Regions from separate parts of the Homo sapiens genome. Here region 2 is linked to region 1. The links come from fine-mapping of genetic effects on gene expression. A gene starts in region 1. The other region holds a variant in brackets. All regions are shown on one strand. Distances are between the middles of the regions.

Region 1 (2,913 bases):
GGCCTACTCTAGGTCCTCAAGAAAGTCCTCAGTTGGGCCATCTAACCAAAGGGAATACTGCAGAAAGACCTGTTTCCAGAAAGTTCGAAATTCACACACACATTACATTAGAACTCTGATCCTGCCTATTAATATTTTAGGAAAAAGCGCTTCCCAAGGGTTTGATTTTTAAGTTTCTCAGAAAATTAAGCAGGGAGGAGGGGTAAAGACATAAAACCGTGTGTTTTGTGCCGTTCCCCAATTCTTCCAAACGGAGGAAAGCCTGGAAGCGGCTCATACTCACCACCCACACCTCTGCATCTGGGTCATTTACCTGGAACGCCAGAATACCAAGGTGTTAGCAGACATCCTGTGCTGTTCCATTCCTTTTAAATTCATTTAAGCACATTTTTTATTAATTTGTTAAGTGCCAGACACTGCAATAGGCATCGAGGGTACAAAATCTGAACAGGATATAGTCCAGATGAGGACGGGTGAAGGGGTTTCTGGCTGACACAACAGATGTTTTTAACAGGCAGCCACACATTTTTGAAAAGCCTTCACGGGAGCTCTGGAGAGGACTCGCCAACCCAGAACGGGTATTTTAAGGGCCCTCCACCCCCACCAGTCTCAAGAAATGAGGGAAATGATTATGAAGGGGGTCCCCAAGCCGACTAAAAAGTTTAATGATGCTATAAAGGGTTTTGGTCGGCTTCGTCTCCTAGGCCCTGAGATATGTTCAGTGTCGTCCGCGGGCCGGACGTTAACGCAGGAGCCAGGGCCGCTTCTTCTGAGGTCCCCTGGGAAGTTCCACGCGCGGAACCAGCCCCTTCCAGGGTGTGAGCCCTGGTATGGGACTCGCTTCCATGAACACATCCGCGTCTCTTAGACGGGGGAGAAAGTGGGGGCTCCCCAAGCAGAAAGCCCAAGTCCCGTCCTCCCCACTAACTGTGCGCCCCTGCGACTCTGCCCGCTAGTCAGTTACACGGCCCGCTAGGCCAGGGGGCGGAGCTGGGAGCCGGGCGGGTCCCCCTCCCACCGCGGCCGCCTGACCTGCACCAAGGCCGCCAGCGCGAAGAAGGCGGCCATGAGTCCGTTGCAGGCCCGCCACAGCGCTGGCGCCATGGCTCGGAGAACACGGCGCGGGGCGGTGAGTCCTGCCACGTGCGGGGCGGTGAGTCCTGCCACGTACGGTCCGCCTTCCTCCTTGCGCGGAGGGACCGAGACCCCCGCCTCGGTTTCGGTGCCTTGGGGACACTGCCGTGGCCGTCGCTCCGCCCGGGGGCGGGGAGCGAAGGGCGTGGGTGTAGCCCCCACTCAGCGACCCATTCAGCCCGCCCCGAACGCCGCGGGGTGTAGGCGGCGCCGTCCTGGTTTCGCGGATGGGAAAGCGAGTCCCTCAGGGAGCGCAGGTCTCGGTGGTGGACGGAAGTCGAATTTGAACCCGTATAGGTTCAACTCCAAACCCTGTTTTCACTAAAGCTACCTTCCTCACAAAAAAAAAAAAAAAGAAGAAAGAAAAAAAAGAAGGAAAAAAGGAAGGAAGGCAGGCGGGAGGGGAGAGAGGAAGAAAGAGAAAGAAAGAAAAAGAAAGAAGGAAAGAAAGGGCTGGGCGCAGTGGCTCACGCCTGTAATCCCAGCACTGTGGGAGGCCGAGGTGGGCGGATCACCTGAGGTCAGGAGTTCGAAAGCAGCCTGGCCAACATGGTGAAACCCCGTATCTCTACTAAAAATACGAAAAAATTAGTCGGGCGTGGTGGCGGGAGCCTGTAATCCCAGCTACTCAGGAGGCTGAGGCAGGAGAATTGCTTGAACCCGGGCGGCGGAGGTTGCAGTGAGCCCAGATTGTGCCACTGCACTCCAGCCTGGGCAACAAAGCGAGACTCCTCAAAAAAAAAAGGATAAAAATTGTTTTTACAAAAATAAGAAAGAGAAAGAAAAAGAGATGTGTGTGTGTGTGTGTGTGTGTGTGTGTGTGTGTGTGTGTGTGTTCTGTTTAGTATTTATGCATTTCCTTCCAAAGCTCAGGAACTTTCAAATCCCTGTAAGCATTATGGTAATTTCTAGAGTGACGACAGTTATATTAACATCTTATACGGCTCACAGCTTTTCGGCAGACAGGCTCATTTATCTTCATGGGCTTTTATTATAAAAGATATTTACATATTATACATATTTACAATTCTCTCCCACCACCAAAACCAACAAAATTTCCAAAATTGCTCATGAATTTCTTATGAACCGAAGACACTGAAATATTCACTGTTCTCCCCTAGTCTGTCTGGTCTTTTTCTGTTTTGTAATTCGCCCTTCTGCTTAGTTCCTCCCCGGGCTCATTTACACATCCATAGGCCTCATTTCTGCTGTTCTAAAGAGTCTTTATCGCTTCAAATCAGGAGCTTCTGTGCCTGTCCTCTTTTCCTTTGAGCTAAATCTCCTAAAACTGTCTAGTTTTTTTTTTCTTTCCCTCTCAGTTTCATTCTTTTCACGAAACACTTATTTCAAGAACGTTGTCTGCTCTGTGCCTGGTGCTGGGACCGTGAAGGTCCCGTGCCGGGACTAGGCAGGGAGCCTGGCGGCTGGCGGGGGTGGGCACCCGTGTTTGCAGAGGTGGGGTGGGGACAGCGGGGACCAGCACTGGGTGGAGTTCCACAGCTAAATCAGCCCTGGGATTGGAAACAAGCGAAGACTATTCTCACTGTGCTTTTCCTTACATAAAAGAAAAAAATGAGAGCGAGAGTGCTAGGGGCTGACTTGCATTCCCCCTGCACCCCCAATTCATATGCTGAAGCCCTAACCCCCAGTGCCTCAAAATGGGACTGCATTTGCAGACAGGGACTTGACAGAGATGATTAAGTTAAAATGAGGTTATAGGGTGGACCCTAATCCAATATGACTAGTGTCCTGATACGAAGAGGGGACAGTTACAGAGGG
Region 2 (2,913 bases), 150 kb after region 1:
GCTAAAAGTGGAGGCAGAGATATTTGGATAAATAAATGCTAGAGAATTGGAAATTCCTAGGACAAGTCAATTTGGATATGTCTATGTCATCCTTTTTTTTCTAAGAGACACGTAACTCTGATCCTTAAGGAGTTAGAGAGTTCCCATAGCTTAGGGTCTGGAAGCCATATTCCTTTTTATGTAACATCCTTGAATATGCTACTCGTATACCCTAAATTTACTCTGTAATTTTTTTTTTTTTATTTGAGAGGGAGTCTCACTCTGCTGCCTATCCTGAAGTGCAGTGGTGTGATCTTCACTCACTGCAACCTCCTCCACCCAAGTTCAAGCGATTTTCCCACCTCAGGCTCCTGAGTACCTGGGATTACAGGCACATGCCACCAAACCCGGCTAATTTTTGTGTTTCTAGTAGAAGCGGGATTTCACCATGTTGGCCAGGCTGGTCTCGAACTCCTGACCTCAGGTAACCCACCCACCTTAGCCTCCCAAAATGTTGGGATTTCAGGCATGAGCCACCATGCCTGGCCTATAATTATTCTTCACAACATATTTCAGCAATAGGATTAATTATATGTGTCATTAATTATTCAATGTTTGTCTGTCTTACTAAAGTGTGAGCTCCAAAAGGACAGGAGCTTACCACAAATAGCTACAAATTACCTATACACATCCTAGGTACTGTTTTAAGCCCTTCAGATACAACCTGCTCACCCAGAACTCCCATTCTGGTTCCAGGATGGGGACAAAGGGAATTGCTACCTAACACAGTTGTCAGAAAAAGTCTCTCAAATCAGGTTGCATGAAAACGGAGACTGAAAGCAGTGAAGGACCATATCATGAAGCTCTCTGGGAGGAGGGGCATTTAAAGAAGAGAAAATGGAAAGTGCAAAGGTTTTGAGGGCTGGAACATGTTTGGTATATTCAAGGAACAGCAAGAAGACCAATGCAACTGTTGCAGAATAATCCCATGTGAGAGTGGTGGAAGATGAAATCAGAGAGGTAGCAGGTGGCCCTAGCTTTTACTCTGAGTGCGACGGGAAGCTGTTTTTGAGCAAGGGGAGAAAGACAGAGAGAGAGAGAGAGAGAGAGACAAAGAGAGAGAGAGAGAGAGAATTGGGAGGTATGTGACTGGGAGGTATGTGACTCAGGAGTTGGGTTTTGTTCGTTTAAAGTTTGAGATGTGTGTTAAGAATCCAGCTGAGATGTAAAGTTGGGTTGAGGCATGTGGAATTCAGGAGAGAGGTCTAGCAGGAGAGATAAACCTGGGAGCCATCAGTGTAAATTGCATTTAACACCATGAGCCTGAAAGAGGTCTTAGAGAGGTCTCTAGTGAGAAGGGTAGACC[G/A]GGAAAAGAAAGCCGAGGGCTGGGTCTGGGGCCATTGATGTTCAGACGTCTGAGATCTGAGCAGGGACCAGGAGAAACAACCAAGAAGGAGTGGCCAGTGATGTAGAAGGAGACTCTAGAGAAAAGAGCATCCTGGAGGCAAATCATAAAAGACTTTCAGGAAGAAGGTAGGGACAAAAATTGTCAAATGTTTCTGAGAGACTGAGTAAGATGAAGACCGAGAATTGATGATTGGGCTTTGTAACATGGAGGTATTGGAAACCTAGATAAGGGCTGTTTTGGTGAGGTGATGGGCAAAAAAGCCCAAAAGCATTGAGTTCAAGATGGAAAAAGAGGTCAGAAATTGGAGACCATTCTGCAAAGGAGAGCAGAGAAATGAGTGGGAACTAGAAGTAGGTAAAGGGTGAGCAAAGGGTTTGTGTTTTGCATTGGATGGAAAAGGTCAAGAAGAGAGAGAAAATTTGATGGTGCAGGAGACAGCGTGGCTGACCGATCAATGACCTTGTTATTGAAAAAGAGAATGAGGACCTAGGGTTCAAGCAGAAGGGCTGGCATTAGAGCTTTCAGTTCATCTGTGATGTTGAGTGGGAATGCAGAGCTTCTAGGACAAATGCCCTGAGGGTGGTAGATGTCTTGGTGGAAGCCTGCAACATTTTCTTCTGATTGCTTCTATTTTCTTAGTCCAGAGTGAGGAGGAGAAAGAAGTTACAAAATAATAGTTTAGTCTCTTAATTGGATTTTCTCCAATCACACTAGGCAGAAAAGCATATAAATGGATGACTTGCGAAATGGAGTAGGATTGGAAGGTAGCATTTGGGCCCCTTGAGGTAGGATCTCATGCATTTGAAATAGGCCAGTCAATATGCTTGCGTATTTTTCTCCCACTAAGTTCAGCTGCTTGGATAAAGGTTCAGAATAGTTAGAGAGTGAGATTTAATAAGGGTTGAGGGTTTTTTTTCCTAGGTGAGAATTAGGGAGTGAGGAAAAAAGGAGCTGGAGTATGTTCTGGGGAGTAATGGTAACAGCACCTACTTGAATGGAAGCTGGATAAGAAGAGTGAGGCAATGGAGGAGTTGAGGGACAGTACAACCATGTATTGATCATATATTTAGATATAATCATGTATTTAGTTTATAGAGGGGTCAATAATTTTTGGAATTGGCAAACTGAAAATGAGAAGTGGTGGTTGGAAAGTAGGATTCTTAGAATTGAGATAACAGAGTGCAGTTACTTGTGTAAAAAGGTCTAGGGCATGACTATAAGGGAGAGTGGATGAGTTAGGATGGAGGAAAACAATCCCCAGAAAAGAGGAGGTCATGGAATGGGCAGTCCAGGGCTTTGCAGGGATTTCTCTATGGAAAGCAAAATCACTGAGAATCACAGCTGAGGTAGTATGGGAGAGGGTGACCATGACCCAGGTGCCGGGATCTTGTAGAAATGAGGGGAATGACACAGGGCTCAATAGTTGACTATGACAAGGAGGGTAGTGGGTTGTTCGGTATGGCCGCATGACCCTTAAAACCGGGAGTGTTGGGGGCAGTGGTATGGAAGATCAGTAACGGGCAAAA

Direction of the effects. Alleles are on the strand shown, and positions count from the first base shown. SD is a standard deviation of normalised expression in the study named.
As copies of A replace G in region 2, the expression in aorta of the gene that starts at base 1,276 in region 1 goes up (large effect, 0.89 SD a copy in GTEx).

What was found. PIP is the estimated chance that this variant, and not a neighbour inherited with it, causes the effect.
Region 2: its variant is the best candidate, but not a certain one, in a credible set for the expression of TMEM220 in aorta (GTEx, PIP 0.80).

Annotation. Positions count from the first base shown.
Region 1 is chr17:10,728,748-10,731,660 of GRCh38, forward strand. TMEM220 (transmembrane protein 220) reads right to left here and starts at 1,276. Exons shown (of 6, transcript NM_001004313.3): 1 at 1,033-1,276; 2 at 284-313. The coding sequence starts at 1,104. It overlaps TMEM220-AS1 (TMEM220 antisense RNA 1), which reads left to right and starts at 1,030. Exons shown (of 4, transcript NR_073458.1): 1 at 1,030-1,153. RefSeq lists enhancers at 728-1,314, 1,315-1,901 and silencers at 915-1,084, 1,095-1,334.
Region 2 is chr17:10,880,826-10,883,738 of GRCh38, forward strand. LOC124903926 (a long non-coding RNA gene) reads left to right here. Exons shown (of 2, transcript XR_007065619.1): 2 at 1-70. Among named protein-coding and RNA genes, the nearest start is that of PIRT, 44 kb to the left of the region's middle. The variant G/A (reference allele first, on the strand shown) is at 1,346.